Linked DNA regions of Homo sapiens: region 2 is linked to region 1. A link means that fine-mapping ties the variant in region 1 to the expression of a gene that starts in the linked region. Tissue or cell type: whole blood. Region 1 holds a variant in brackets; the other region holds the start of a gene. All regions are shown on one strand. Distances are from middle to middle.

Region 1 (8,104 bases):
GCTGCCATGCTGAGTGGGTGAGCAGGAGGGCGGGGCTCGGGTTCAACACTCAAGTCCCAGAGTTCCCAAGAGGCCAGCCCAGGGCCTGGCCAAGTCACTTCAAATAGCTGTTTAGCCCAGATGGCCTGTTAATCTTGAAGGAAACCCAAAGAAGCACAGAGACACAGTTGAAATGGGAGTAAGAGCACCCAATGCCCATCCACGGCCAAAGGAAAGCTTATGCATATGCAACATGGGCCCACTCCGAAGGCTTTTCCATTAGCCGCGTGGAGACACTGTGGCCAGGTTGGGGGAATCTATATTTCACCTTACGTTGCACACAGCTGGGCTCAGACTGGCACCAGTGTTAATATGCAAACGAGGCAGTATCTGTATTCACCAGGGCTCTGAGAAGCCAGGATCCTTCTCTTCCAGAGCAGCAAACAGAGAAAGGTGGGTGGGGCATGCCAGAGGGGGCGTGGCTGGTAGGCAAGGACTAGGCAGGAAAGAGGCCATTGGAATGGGAGGAGAGACCAAATTATGTCAAATCAGTTTGGGGGAGTGGAGAACATTCTCAAAGAGAAGACTTAGAACCCAAAGGGTTTTGGAGCCAGAAGTTCCTCCTCGGTCTAATGGTCTCATTTTATTGATGAAAAAACTGAGGCCTAGAGAGGAGAAATAATTTGCTGAGAGACAAACACCTAATGGTAGTTTTTTGTTCATATGCGAATACAGCTGTGTTTAAATTTAATTTTTGTTTATATAGGTAAAGAAAGATCAAGGAGATCCTCAGAAGGTCAGTCCTATCAAGACCATGTGAGTACCGCGTGGACAAAAAGAGAAGCCACGGTCCTTGCCTTTGACATGTAATAAGAACTCAAAAGAATGGGGCACTGCGCATTCAAGAAGGTCATGAAGTGAACGTGCTACCTGCCAGGTGTGGGCTAGGGAACTGGGTGCAGTTGGTATTATCTCAGAGGTCCCCGGGGCGGGTGGAAGAGCTCAGAGCCACATCCCACCCTGCGCTTTCCTTTCGGCTCTGCTCTGAGCCCCACTCCTGGCTCCTCTCTCCAAACCCCCTTCCTTCGGGTTTTCTGGGAGAAATGTGCAAAACCTCACCAGTCTGTAGCGATGGATACAGTTTCTCTAGCTGGACACAGCTCCAGTGGTTCTAAGTGTGCATCTCTTAAAACGTCCACTGAGGCCAAAAAGCTCTCCCGTGCCCATCCCCCCACAGCAATTAGCAAATCGTCGGCACAGCAGTTATCTATACTAGACACATGCAGCCTACAAGCTAGACACCTCTTAAGGGAACTAGTTTCCTCATCTGTGAAATACAGTTTACAAGGCCTGTTTTCTGTGAGGAGTAAAAACGATCAGGTATGTGATGACATTTAGTGTCATACCTGCTATACTTGAAGCTAGCTGAAGTTACAGGCCTCTAGGATAATCTGCTGTGAGTTGTGAAAACCGGCACATAAGTCGAGTGTTAACCACAAATGACACAGGAGACAGCCACGAAGACCTTTGCTGTGCACCTAGAGGACAGGGCGTGACCTTGGTGCATGGGCTGTGTGACATTTCTTCCCAGAGCCTAGAAGCCTTTTCTACTTACTGCTCGGTTCAGAGATTCAGGGCTGGGTTCCAGAGGGATGCAGGAACTGCAAGCCAGGCTTCCAGATAAACAAGCTTTCGCGTGTAGCACGGAGTGTCTGTCCTCCTTCCTGAGTCTTCCCTTCACCCTTTTTAATGCCAACTCCATTTGTGATGATCACAGGAATTACTCTAAAGTCAGCCTGTGCTCCTCGGAAGGACAAACTGTTAAAGCTGAATGTAAATTTGGCATTGCTCTCCCTTGAATGCTCTTGGCATCCGTTTAAAGAAACGAGAGTTAGGGCAGTGATCGCATATTCATTTTTATAAAAACGACTTACAGACCAAGATTGGTTTCTTGAAATCCCACAAGTTACAGCTTAATTTCCTTCACCAGCACTGGTCCAGTCCTATGCTACACTGGCTTTGGCCACACTCACAAACTTGTTAAGCCTCAGTCACTTTATTCTGCAAAACCTGCCATAGCCAGAGAGGTGGTAGACTGGAAGACTCAGGGTAACCAGCCATGAGTCTTAATCCAGGAAAAGGGCTTTGACAGTGGCCCCTGAGATCTGAGAGGACTGTCCAGTTACTAGTGCATCCCAATTAGCTGGGCTCCCTATCATGGTTTATTCAGCAAATGACAGTCAGGACTGTCATGTCAGGCCAGGTGTGGTGTCTCACACCTATAACCCCAACACTGGGAGGCCAAGGCAGAAGGATCACTTGGTCCCAGAAGTTTGAGACCAGCTTGGGAAACAAAGAGAGACCCTGTCTCTACAAAAGAAAAAATTTAAAATTAGCTGGGCCTGTGGTGCCGTGCACCGTGGTTCCAGCTACTCTGGAGGCTGAGGTAGGAGGATCACTTGAGCCCGGGAGGTCAAGGCTGCAGTGAGCTGTGATTGCACCACTACACTCCAGCCTGGGTGCCAGAGCAAGACCTTGTCTCAAAAATAAAACAGAATTCTCATGTCAGAGCCCCTTTCCAGTAAAGTGGGAGAGAGCACAGGCAGACACAGCTCCTGCCTCGAGGGGCCCCCTTAGCGTTCAAGCTATGATACCCGAGAGTCCTCTCTTTGGGGTCTGTCTGCCTAAGAACATAGGGTTTGAATCTTGGCTCCACTGCTTCCCAGCTGGTGGCCTTGGACAAGTCACTGACTTTCTCTGAATTCTTAGGTTCCAGGTAACAAAAGCAGTCCTGCAGGGCTGTTTTGGGTACTAGATGAGAGGTGTGCATAGTACCAAACAGTGCGTAGCACACAGTCAGGTGCCCCTCTTCTCTGTCCCATCACCCTTAAACATTCCCATCATTGCAATTGGCACCATGGGTCGTTGGACAAGTATTTCTCTGTGCCTCGGTTTCAACATCTGGAAAATGGGAACTGTAATACGTGCTTCAAAGGATTGTTGGGAGGATTCAGTGAGATAGTCCACGTAAGGCATTTAGCACAATCTTTAGACCATGAAGTCTTAATACACATGAGCTCATATTCCACTGGTACACTGGGAGCTCCTCGGGAAGAACTTGGTCAAGTCCTTCATTCACTGAATTTCCACAGACACTGACAAGCAGCTATTACACATCATGCACTGTGGCTACAGACATGCATCAAGACACGGCCTCAGCTTTGCAAGAGCTGCTCCCAACTCGGGCAATACCACAATATGGTAAGTGCTAAGAGATTTAGCTACAGAGTGCTTTGGGAGTGGAGATCTAACCCAGCCTAAGGGATCAGAAGACTTCTCAGAGATGATGATATCTAAGGTATATCCTGTGGGATGAGTGAAACCCAGCTGAGTACAACAGGAGGTGAGCAGTGAGATGCTGGGGCAAGAACTTCCACGCACACAGAAGAGCACGTCGTGGCAAGTGGAAGAGGGGACAGGCTTCGGCTAACTCATTGACACACCCAGAACTCATGCCAGGCACTTGGGGCTCAGGAGGTGCTGCTGAATGAATAAACAAGCTTGCCGTACACGGTTCACATCCTCCCTTCCTACCTGCTGCTCCAGGTTCCAGGGAAGAGATGCCCGCTCCCTCTGGCGCCTAACCCAGAGCATAGCCAGGAAGAAGAGGGCAGCATGTGGAG[C/G]AGTGCGTCACTGGACATGCCAGGCCAGGCTGCCATGGGAAAGCACTCCAACTCCAGGAAGACTGCCACACCCCCAGGTGCCCAGACTCCCAGATTCTCAGTGAAAGGGACAGGCTGGGGCCCCAAGTACTGCTGCAAGTGGACTCAAGTGGCTTAAGTTCAGAAACCAAGGTGCTAGGCAAGTTGTCCACGGGTGGGGAAGAAGCACCCTCACCTCCTGTGCGGTGCTTCTTGACGACGCAGGGGCCAGGTGTGTGAGCCTCACCTCGGGCCACATTCCCATTACATCTTCCTAGCAAAGTTTCCAAAGCTTTGTCCTCATTTCTCCTCTTCCCACCCAGGCCCACCCCGTCTTGAAATTCCTCTCCTGACTGAGATGTTTGTTGTTCACTGTTGTACCCTCCCCTTCATCCTTCTTGAAGGCTGTTAATAGAACCATCAGACAGACAGGCAGCGTCAGGAGAACAGGCACCTCCCCAGATGCCTGTTGGGTTGTTCTCTCCCGTCTTCCACTTGGGCTACAAGTTGCCAAACACCTAGGAATAGGGGCCGTTTGGTCAAACTATAGCATCTACCAATGGTCAGTGCAAATGTCTCTCTTTGCCTCCACATACTGGGGGCACTGAAAGGAATCCCGGCCTTGATTTCTCTCCAGTGGGTGGTAGACACTGGAGGGCAGTCAACAGCATGCCAGGAACAGAATGAGGAGCAGCGCCTGGGCTGGAAGTTGGCTGTGGGCTGCAAGGTGGTGGTGGGGACTAATGGGGCAAGGGGTGACTGCATTTATCAATGAAAGTATGAAAGGCTTAATTAAATAATGACTCATAAATATTCAGCTCAGCCAAGCTGAGCCCCCACAATGATGGATGTCAGGGACTAAAAGGCTTTCAAGGGGAGGACTCTGCAGAGATGTGGGCCCCCACGCGTGTCAGAACGTAAAGGGCACACTGCCCACAGCCTCTGCTAGCTTGTGACATATCGTTCCCTCGCACCCGCCTTGCAAGCCAAATGCATTTTAAGGCAAGCGGTCTAGTTCCCTAATGAAGAGACTTCTCTATCAGGACCTTGGAATTTGTAGTACAGTAATCCCCTTTATCCATGGTTCTGCTTTCCGTGGTTTCAGTTACCTGCAGCCAACCACAGTCTGAAAATATTCAATGGAAAATGCCAGAAATAAACAACTTATAAGTAGTAAATTGTGCAGCCCTCTGGGTAGTGTGAAATCTGGCACCGTCCACTCCATCCTATTTGGGATGTAAACATTTCTTTTATCCAGCATGAAGCTGGATCTGGAAGGAAGGGAGGTGCGAGAGCAAGTATGCAACGGTACAAGTCTCCAATATGGGAATATGGGACCAGGTACAAGCACAAGTGACGGAAGCCCAGGGTCTTTGTGTGTGTGTGCGCTCTTTGTTCTCCTTTACTTAGCTTCTACCACCACTAAGAACCTGGACCACATCTTAATCATGTTGAGCTGCTCTGAGCCTCAAGATCTTTCTCAATAGGGCAGTAACATCTAACCTACTGCTCCCCACCCGCCCCACCCAGTCACACACTAGCTTTGCTGGCTGCTTTGTTCTCTGACCTTGACATGCTCTCCTGCCCCGTGCCCTGGTGCAAGCCCTTCACTCCACTTAGCATGCTGTCTCCTCTGCTCTGTTTCCTGATCACAGCCAAACTACCCATCAAATGGCACCTGCTCTCCCACATCCTCCCCAAGGCCACCAGGAAGCTGCATGCTCCCTCAGCACTTCTGGACCTCTTATTCTATCACTGTGATACATCTGGGCACCTACATCTCTCTCAACCCAACTAAGCTCTAAAACTCCAGCACCTTCCTGTTCCTCTGCAGTTGCCAAGCTCCTTCCTGCTTAAGAAACATGCTGCTCCCTCACTCGGCACCACCTTAGTCTTCAGGTCAAAGCTTGTCCAGTTTGAAAGGGTGCTCCTAACCTTCCAGAAGCACTCTTATTTCCGTTCAGAGCCCACTAGTAACTTACAGTTCATTTGTGTTGTCGGCATCTGTATCTCCTATGAACTATAAGCTTTCATAAGGACAGGGGCTATTATCAGTTTTGTTCCCCATGTATAACTAGGGCCTCTTTTTAACTGTTAAATGTGCCCCAAAATGGAAACAGCTTGGGCTTTAGAACCAGACAAGTTCAACTTATTACCAGGTCTCACTGATCTGTAACTACCCCCAGGCAGCTGTCACGGCAGCTGAGTGTGACGCCCACCACTCAGAGTGCGCCAAAGTGCCTAAACCCTGTGGACTCAGTGAACCCCAGTTCCCTCTCCTTGCTTGCTTCTCACTGTAACAGCACCTGGTACATGGTAGGGGATCAACGAATATCTGTTGAATGAACATCCTCCTCACAGGAGGCAAAACCATGCCCATTGAACTACACGAGTTTGTTTTTTTTCTAACTTTCTGATAGGGGTATTCACTTAAAGCTAAAGCCGGCCATTGTTGTGAGCCTCCCTGATTCAACCCTCACCTGGCAAACCAGGGAGTCTTTCTCCACTATACAGCCTGGTTCCCTCTCCATACCCCTCCTAGGTCCAGGCTCCCCCACATTTCTCCTCAGGCTTCAATCCAAAGCGTAGGTCCCCAGCTTGTGGAGACACACACATGATATGCTTGGGCTCTTTGCTTTACCTATTCAACAGCCGTGACAATCTCCAGGGAAAATGCCTGATATAAAATTACTTACCTAGTATGACCTTAAGTATGCTTTTTTTTTTTTTTTAAGGATTATGGGTGAAGTTTCTTCTTTATGCTTTTCTGTATTTTTTAAGTATTACAATGAATATGAATTTTGACTACAATGAATATGAATTATGACTATAATTAGAAAAAATCAACATTAACAAATTCAAGATAACATCAAATTTGCCTAAAACCAATTCACCTAATAATCAATTTGCCCAGTGACATATTCACCCACAATTCACATTTTAGACATTTACCACATTCACATTTTATATACAACATAATGAAGCCCTCCCCACAAAAAATTCATTTTTAGATGCCAATTTTTCTTTTTTTTAAAACATTAAGTATTGTTTTCATCCAGTTCCTCTAAAAGTGCCTCTGCCTTTTCTGTTTTTAATAAAACTTTGTCAAGTGTAATTAATGCCTTCAGATATGATAGGTAAAGCACCTCAACAACCTCTAAGGCATCTCTGCTGAGGTTTCATTCACTCTAGTCTTAAGCACTTTTAAGGATTTTTAGCTTTCCTTTTAGGAGGTCTTCTGTTTTAATTGGCTTAAAAAGAAAAACATTCTAAGATGCAAAACTTCTCAAGGAGAAACCATCCCAACCGATATGTAACATTACTTAAACATCCAAAGTTTAGTCAAAGCTATTAAGTGACTTGAGTGTGAACAGGTCAGTTCACCCCAAACTAGTCAGAATCCAAACCTTCCAGTACTAGTAAATAGAGTACACCAGTCTCATCAGAGCCCAGCTGTTCACTGTCGCTCTTTGCAAATCTCTCCCCCTCCTCACCTCCAGCAGGCCAGCTTTTTAAGGGCATCCAAAGAGCAGCAATGTATTTTAGCTGTTCTAAAACTAGAGGCATATGCAAAATAGAGCTAATTACCCTTGCCTTCTCAACGATAATATCCAAAGAGATACTAAGGCAACGTTGTTGAGTGGGAAAACACAGGGTCATATTTCAGGATTAAGTTTTAGAGTCAAACAGAACCAGGCTCAAATCCAATTTACTGTGTGACCCTGGGCAAGATACTCTGCCAAAATAAACCTGTTTCCTCATCTGTAAATGGTGACACCAATGAATATGTCAAATCTTATAGGTTGCTGTAACAACTGGCCCTACCACTTAACACCTAGTAGATATACTCAATAAAAGGCAGCTACTGTCAGGAATTTTTCCCAGACCCACTCACTGCACTTGAACCCTTGCCAGAAGCAGGCAGGCATGCTCACTGTCTCCTCAGAAGCTACGCACTGCATTTGTCTTGGCACTAAGGGAGAGAACGTTTTTTAATGAAAAGGTCAGTCTGCCCCAAACTCACACTAATTTTTTTTTTAAACAGGGCTTTGCCTGACTCCACTTTTTTCTCCCTACTCTGGTCCTGCCCAAATTTCATAGCAGGAAGACAGCTTTGAGAATTAGCAGGGGTGGTTTGCCAGATGTTCCTTTGCAGTCTGCCTTTGTGACTGCCCTCTGACTAATTCAAACTAGGTTTAACCTAGTACTGAAAAAAAAAAAGTCTGATTGCTTAAACATGCCCTATCTGCTTGCTAATCCACATAAAGCTTCAATAAGAAAGATCTAAAGAAAAACTTAACATTTTCCTCAGAAACTGGGGGAAGGCGTTAAGTAGCTTACCCAGGGTCATCAGGCCCTGGAGAAGGATCAGATTTGTCCTTCCTGAAGGCCAGGGCTTTTTCTTCCAACCACTGGACCAGGCT
Region 2 (8,104 bases), 77 kb after region 1:
GGAGGTTGCAGTGAGCCGAGATCGCTCCACTGCATTCCAGCCCGGCGACAGAGCAAGACTCCGTCAAGAACGGAAGGAAGCAAGGAAGGAAGGAATCAAGCAAGGAAGGAAGGAAGGAAATGACTATATACAATACCGGTTCTCTGCCTTGATTGTTCCTATGATGGATACAGCATTTTCCACCACTGCTTTTGCACCGTTAAGTACAAATGTTGAAAGACAAAACATCTCAATAACATGAAAATAGTTTGAACATTATGTACCCTCTGAAAGATCTCAGTGGTCCCCCTCCCCAAGCATCCACAGATCCCGCTCTGGGAAGCACAGACCATCCACCAGCAGGTACCAGTTCTGCTTGTTATGGCGATGTAAAACTACTACAATTCCCTCTTTTTTGTGCAGCCCCCGAAAACATTTTTGCTATTGTCTCGCCTAAACCTTGCAGTAACTCTTTTTGGTAACTTTGACAACATTCTATGCATGTGGCATAAATGCTACTGATACTGGTTACTCTCCTTCACACCTTTTTATCATATGTGTGATACTCAGAACTGAGCTGATGCCAAAAATATCTGACCAACACAGAGTAGGGCAGAAATACATCTAGTTTCCATAAGGGCATCACACTTTTCGTTAATGCCGTGGTTCTCAACCAGATTTTGCACCCCAGGGCACATCTGGTAATATCTGGAGACATTTTTGATTGTCATTACTGGGGAAATGGAGGGGTGGAGCTCCCGGAATCCAGTAGGTGGAAGCTAAGGCTGCTGTTAAACTACAATACACAGGACAGGCACCTGCAAGGAATGAATCTGGCATAAATGTCAATAATGACTAGGTGAGAAACTGTTTAATGGATCCAAAGACTATCAAAACTTTCAGAAGCTTCACCACCATGACTCTTAAATCAGACTATAATCTTTCCAAAAGTATGTTTGTAGCTACATATGAAATTTAGACAAAATATGGACACTTGATCAAAATGTTCTGTAATATCCTAAATTTCGATAATTTTGATTTAAATTCATTCCGACAACTCACCTAGGGTCCATGCCCCAATGCCACTCACCCATCCAAATTTAACATTAGGACAGGTATACCAAAAATGAAAGCCAAACACAATATAGCCGGGAAATCACAATCCAACACATCAAAAAAACAACATTTATGACAGTGTGACAGCAGTACATGAAAAACAAAGCAACTTAATGAGGAAGAAGCCCTATTTTTCTTTAACTAGGCATTCTTTGGTCTCTCTATTGTTTACTACAGTAATTATCGTATACTTACTTTTTGAGTCTCGCTCTGTCACCCAGGCTGGAACGCAGTGGCATGATCAAGGCTCACTGCAGCCTCAGCCTCCTGGGCTCAAGCAGTCCTCCCACCTCAACCTCCCAAGTAGCTGGGATTACAGGCATGAGCCACCACGCCCAGCTAACTTGTGTTTTTTGTTGAGATGAAGTTTCGCCATGTTGCCCAGGCTGATCTCAAACTCCTGGCCTCAAGCGATTTACCTGCCTGGGCCTCCCAAAGTGCTGGGATTACAGGCGTGAACCACCGCGCCTGGCCCCGTCTTCCATTTTACACACTTGAACTAACTCGCGAAGAATTTGAAATACCTAAGGTCTTTCACAGAAATGTATACCTTCCCTCTTCAAAGAATGTTGGGGGAAAGTAGGTATAAAAGTACTTTTAATTCCTAGAAATAAGACACAAATTACTTAATGTTATTTCTTCATTGAAGCCTTTTAAGGTTTACATCTATCATTTTTAATGCTGGTATGATTATCAGAAAAAGAAGTCCCTTTTCAAAGACAGCAAAATGTTAACTTAATAACGCAGTCATCACGACATCACTGCAAACATTTATCTCCTATTGAACTGAGAAACACCACAACAATCTTGCTTAGACTCAGTTCTCCTAGGGTCTCTTATTCTATGAAAGGGAAAAATCAATAAACAGAAACCATGCAGATTCCAAGATTTTAGACCTGTATAGTTAGTTAAGTCTAACAAACGTTTTCATCACAGAAGTAATGTGATAGACTTCTTAATAACCTAAGGGGGTGGGTGGGAGCCATGGAAAATCCTTTTAAAATACATAAATTGCGATAGAAGTCATTAAGGTCTGTGCCAAAGTTAGAGTCTCACCTGTAAAGAAACACATTCACACACATATATAATTGTAAAACTACAATCGGTGATTATGTGCTAAAGAAATTATCCTTACTTACAAAAAAAAAATAGACCTGAGTTACTACATTCGATGTCTAGAAACCACAAAAATCTTTATCCTGAATTTAACCAAAACTTTGAGTGTCAATTACATGTTGCGTTTTGAGGCTACTAAGATGAAGAAAACTCGGTCCCTGGTCTCAAAGAGGCACTCTTACGCTTCAATATTCAAAAATGGAAGAAATGCAGTCTCACTATTTAGGCCTCTACAATGCTGTATATTTGCAGGAAAAAAAAAATCCGTAATCTACTGGCAATGAGCTGCCAAATTATATCTCATTATCAGAAAGGGGGAGGGGAGAAAAAAACTTTTTAAAAACCCACCAAGAAAAGAAAAAGGCGCAGTGGCATTAGAAAGCATAAAGAGACTAGCTTCAAGCCTTACAACCAGGAAAAAAAAAGTATCACCAGAGATAGAGAAAGAAGGAAACAGAATGAAACCTGGTTACCCCATCAAAACAAAACAGGGAAAGCAATACATAAGTCGTTTTGGAGGAGGGCACCCTGTGAAGTGCCCCCTTCTCCGACCGCCTGTGAATGCTAGGGAGGCGGAGGTGGAGGCAGGCGGACTCAACGCTCAAAGCTGGGCTTTTAACTCGTGCTCCTACATTCAGACAAGGTCAGTGGAAAGGGGCTAACTCCGGCGCACAAGACAGGCATCTGGAAATGGGAGGAAGAGAGTGAGCAAACTGAGACAGACCAGGAACAGAAAAGCAACATCGAATGGGCCCGAGGGGCGCCGAGAGCGAGCCCGAACCCCAAGTGCTGATCCCGCGTGCAGCAGGGTCGTGGTTCCCCACCACCAGGCAATGTTTTGTTTTCGGGTTGTTTTGATTTTCTTTGTGGACGGGGCGGAGAAGCTGGAGTGGCCGGGCGAGTTAGAGGTTCCGCCAGCAATTCCGGAAGGGGAAGGCCCCCGGCCCGACGGCAGCTGACCCAGCCAGGAAGGGTCGGGGGACGCGGGAACCCAGCACACGGGGGGAAGTGCGGCGGCGAGCGAGCGAGGAAACAGGAAGGTCCCCAGTCCTGCCTGCCTCCTACCAGCGGGGAGGGTCGGGCTCGCGTGCCACCCTCTCCGCCTACCTCTTCCCCTTCCCGGACGCCCCCCAAGGCCCAGCCGGCGAGCGAAAGAAAACAGAATACAAATTACTTACAACGGCATCGTCTCCGGCGCCGGCACCGCCCAGTCACTTCCCCCCCGCAACCGCCGCCGCTGCCGCCCTGGGCATGATCCACTGAGGCGGGAGGGAGGGGGGGGCCTGCCTCAGCCCTGGGTCCAACCCCTCTCCCGCACCGCTCCCGCCGCTTTAAGCGCTTCTCCTCCTTCCCCTTCGTCCTAACATGGCGCCCGAGCGCTACCACAGCAACGTTCTAGAACTGCTGACGCCACCACGCACGCCGTGCGTGCGCCTGCGCACCAGCGCCGTCCGCCGCGAAGCCTCACGGGAAGCGGAGTTCCTAAGGCCGCCTGCGGCCCGGCAATTACCCCCTGGGTCCTCTCACACTTAGCAGTGGGTGTCAGATGGTGGAAGGGAACGCTCAGGGAGGCCCCGGGCGGTGAGTTGTCCCTCGGGCGGGGACGCCCTCGTGGGCAGTGCGGCGTGGACGGCGCAAGGAAGAACCCGGAGAGATCCCAAGCCACGAGGCACCGCTTCCGGCGCATTGTGAGGTCCCACCTTTCCCGCCGCCTGAGGTCGCGGCGGCTGCTCTTTCCCGGAGCAGCGTCCCTGGAGGCGCTGCCAGGGGGTGAGGCACCCACGCGTGCACCGTATGTACCCCCCAGCGCGGCGCTTAGAACGACTCGCATGAGTCGCTGCCTTGGGTTGGAACCGGTTACTCCGCCGCTTCGTACTGGACTGCAAAGTAACAAGTACTTCGCCGGGCAGCGGTGCCGACCCCGTGTGCTACGGCGAGAGGTGCTTAGCCTAGAGCCGACGAAAACATGTCCCCAGGACTCCCTTTCCCTCCCAGACTGCGTCCCACCAGATGGAGCTTTCCGTCTGTTTTAACCACCAGTGTATTCCTGATGCCTGACCCAGGCGCTGAAATATTTGTTGAACGAATAAATGTGTAGGTTAGGACTGACGACAGTCCGCGAATTCTGGAACACGGGCTGATTTTACTTTTGAACAAATGATGCACTGGAACTTCCTGACAGAGCTGACCTTTTATAGGAACATCAATGGCAGTCACCGCTGGCATTTTAGCAAAGGTTGTCTTGGTCATAATTTCCCCTTGACTGTGTTTCCAGCCCTTAATCTATATCGGGTGGGACCTGGAAGTCTACCTTCTCGCCACCCCTCGGCAAAAGTTTGAGAAAGTGTTTGAGGCAGAGCCTCCTCTCTCATATGCCCTCCATCTGCGAATTAGAACGAATTATAAGTTCTACGGTGTCACATAGGGGGTTAGCGGAGAGGAAGAGGGAAAGAATCAAATACAGGACGCTGCCTTAACCAAAGTTCTAAACTCTAAATGTAATAATGTGCATTTGTGAGTCCTCAGGAAGTTTCACAAAGGCTTTCCCTTTTTTCACAGAATGTCTAGTAGGACTGGTGACTCCGAATGGGAAAAACACAGGACCTAGACCTGCCCTGTCCATTAGTGTAGCCCCTTGGCCACTTAGGGCCACTGAGCACTTGAAATGAGGCTAGTTCGTTTAGGAGGCACTGGAAGTGCAAAATACGCACGGGTGTCAGTTCGACGAATGTGAAATACCTCACTGATCACTTTTTATATTGATTGCACGTTGAAATATTTTGGATATATTGCAGTAAAGAAAATGTAAGCCGGGCACGGTGTCTCACACCTGTGATCCAGCACTTTAGGAGGCTGAGGTGGGAGGATCGCTTGGGCAGGAGTTAGAGACCAGCCTGGGCAATATAGGGAAACCCCCGTCTATACAAAAAGTTAAAAAAAAAAAAAAAAAAAGAAAAAAGAAAAAAAAATTAGCTGGGCATGGTAGTTCCTGCCTGTGGTCCCAGTTACTCCGGAGACTGAGGTAGGAGGATCCCTGGAGTGGGAGGTGGAGGCTGCCGTGAGTCGTCATCTCACTACTGCACTCCAGCCTGCGTTGACAGAACGAGATCCTGTCTCAAAAAAAAAAAAAAGAAAATATACTATTAAAATTAATTTTACCTGTTTTTTTAAATGTGACCACTAGAAAATTTTAAGTTATATATGTGGCCTTCATTTCCATTAAATAGTGCTGATCTGCAAACAGACTTATATTTGATTGTCATTTCTTCCATTTAGTCTCTTTTCCTCTTGTCATCAAGGTGGCTTTGGCTGGAGACCCAGTAGCATAGTTGTCCCTAAAAGACTGAAAATCTGAGATCCAGATAATTCAATAATGTATTAAGGCTATGGACTTCAAAGCAGCTTGTAAAGATATGCCCTGGGGCCTGGCACAGTGGCTCACTCACACCTGTAATCCCAGCACTTTGGGAGGCAGAGGATTCCTTGAGCTCGGGAGTTCTAGGCCACCCTGGGCAACGTGGCAAGTCGTTGTCTCTACTAAAAAAAAAAATCAAAAAAATTAGCTGGCCTTGGTGGCACACACCTGTAGTCCCAGCTACTTGGGAGGCTGAGGTTGGGAGGATCACCTGAGGCAAGGAAGTTGAGACTGCAGTGAGCCCTGATCATGCCATTGCACTCTAGCTTGGCAACAGAGCAAGACATTGTTCAAAAAAAAAAAAAAAAAATGCACTAACGATGTACTTTATGAATAAAAGAATGGGGACTTTTTCAGCTTATGTTGTCCTCTGCCAGGCATCTCAGAAGGCAGTGAAGAGAGGGACGCTAAACATCCATGCTTTTGGTCTATAATTGCTTCAAACTATTTTTGTTTCAGCCTTCCATAGAATGAGGCAGCTAGATAGCACAGCTGATGAATATTTAGTACCTAGAATGTGCTAGATATCACGCTACTTGCCTAAGGCATTTAAAAGGAACAATATTGAGGATTGAGGATGGAGTCAAGGTAGACTTCATGTAAGAGGTCACTTCAGACACGTCCTGATATGTTAGGGTTTGGTAAGTGGACAGAAGGAGTAGAAGGGCATCTCAGGTAAAGAGAACAATTTTTAAAAATAAAATGAGGCCGGGCGCAGTGGCTCACGCCTGTAATCCCAACACTTTGGGAGGCTGAGGTTGGAAGATCACTTGAGGTCAGGAGTTGGAGATCAGCCTGGCAAACATGTTGAAACCCCATCTCTACTAAAAATACAAAAATTAGTCGGGCATAGTGGTGGGCGCCTGTAATCCCAGCTACTCAAAAGCTGAGGCAGGAGAATCGCTTGAACCCAGGAGGCACATGTTGCAGTGGACCAAGATTGTGCCATTGCACTCCAGCCCGGGCAACAAGACCAAAACTCTGCCTCAGAAATAAATAAATAAATAAATAAAAATTAAAACGTGCAAATAATTTATTTGGAGAAAGGGAAACTTTTGAAGTGACTAAACCACAAAATATTTAGTGAGGAGTGGTGAAAATAAAGCTGCAAAGTTAAGTGAGAGGCAGAAGATAAGGGGCATAGTGGTGCACACCTGTGTCCTCTATTCTGAAGGCTGCGGTGGGAGAATCACCTGAGCCCAGGAAGTCAAGGCTGTAGTGAGCCAAGATCATGCCACTGCGCTCCAGCCTGGGTGACAGAATGAGACCATGTCTCAAAAATAAAGGAAGTAGGGGGAGATGGGAGATCATATAATGACTCCATAAACAGACAAAGGAATTATAGATGGTGATAAGCGGCATTAATAAACCAGGCATTAGAGTTGTGGTGGAGGCCAACTTCAGATAGAGAAGGCTTTTCAGAGGAACTGACCTTTGAGCTGAGACCTGAAGTTAATTCTGAGCGATTTTGAATTTTTGTTTTTGTGAATGGAGGAGCCATTGAAAGTTTTAAAACAGGAGTTAGGTTACATTTATATTTTTGGAAAGATGACTGAAAGTGTAAGGAATGAATTTGAACTAGGAGAGGTTTTGAAGCTGGAAGATGGGTGAGGCGGCTCTTGCAATCCTTCAGATGAGAAATGAAGTTTGAAATAAGGAAGAGAAAGCCGGGCGCGGTGGCTCAAGCCTGTAATCCCAGCACTTTGGGAGGCCGAGGCGGGTGGATCACGAGGTCAGGAGACTGAGACCATCCTGGCTAATCCGGTGAAACCTCGTCTCTACTAAAAATACAAAAAAATTAGTCGGGCGTGGTGGCGGGCGCCTATAATCCCAGCTACTCATGAGGCTGAGGTAGGAGAATGGCGTGAACCCGGGAGGCGGAGCTTGCAGTGAGCTGAGATCGCGCCACTGCACTCCAGCCTGGGCGACAGAGCCAGACTCCGTCTCAAAAAAAAAAAAAAAAAAAAAGAAGAAGAAATAAGGAAGAGAAGAAGGGAGCAATCTGAGAAAGATTTAGAAGGCATAGTTAATTCTGGATGGGAGAGGTGATGGAGAGGAAGAAGACCAAAATGATTTCGGAGGTTCTGAGTGGGGGCGGGTGACAGTGATTGGAGCTACTGATAAATGAAATAGGAAATAGAGGAGGATAACTGGGTGAGTGGATGAGATCGGGAGAGTAGTAGCTATGTGTTGATTTTGAACTGCCTGTGGGACATTCAGAAATGTCTATGAGGCAGTTGAAAATATGCTTCCGGAGCTAAGAAGAGAAATTTGGGCTGGAAACATTATAAACTCTGAAAACAAGAATCATGGCTTGGAATCATGTTTTGGCTCTGGAAGGACCTTATATACACCCAGCGACTACTCCAACTCAAATTTCATGAATGAGTAATAATCTAGATGCTCACAGATCATATTTAGGACCCAGTTAAGAGTAAAACTCTAGCCAAGGAAAGTGAAGAGTAAGAGAAGACCAAT

Evidence for each region. PIP is the estimated chance that this variant, and not a neighbour inherited with it, causes the effect.
Region 2: PAPOLA starts here. The variant in region 1 is fine-mapped to the expression of PAPOLA in whole blood (TOPMed, PIP above 0.99). The same link has a PIP of 0.9 or more in aorta and breast.

The regions. Positions count from the first base shown.
Region 1 is chr14:96,574,393-96,582,496 of GRCh38, reverse strand. No RefSeq gene overlaps it. Among named protein-coding and RNA genes, the nearest start is that of PAPOLA, 76 kb to the right of the region's middle. The variant C/G (reference allele first, on the strand shown) is at 3,663.
Region 2 is chr14:96,497,886-96,505,989 of GRCh38, reverse strand. PAPOLA (poly(A) polymerase alpha) reads right to left here and starts at 3,608. Exons shown (of 22, transcript NM_032632.5): 1 at 3,390-3,608. The coding sequence starts at 3,397. PAPOLA-DT (PAPOLA divergent transcript) reads left to right here and starts at 3,664. Exons shown (of 1, transcript NR_122121.1): 1 at 3,664-4,342. RefSeq lists enhancers at 959-1,458, 1,459-1,960, 3,116-3,711, 3,535-3,794, 3,712-4,306 and 1 more and silencers at 3,295-3,414, 3,853-4,196.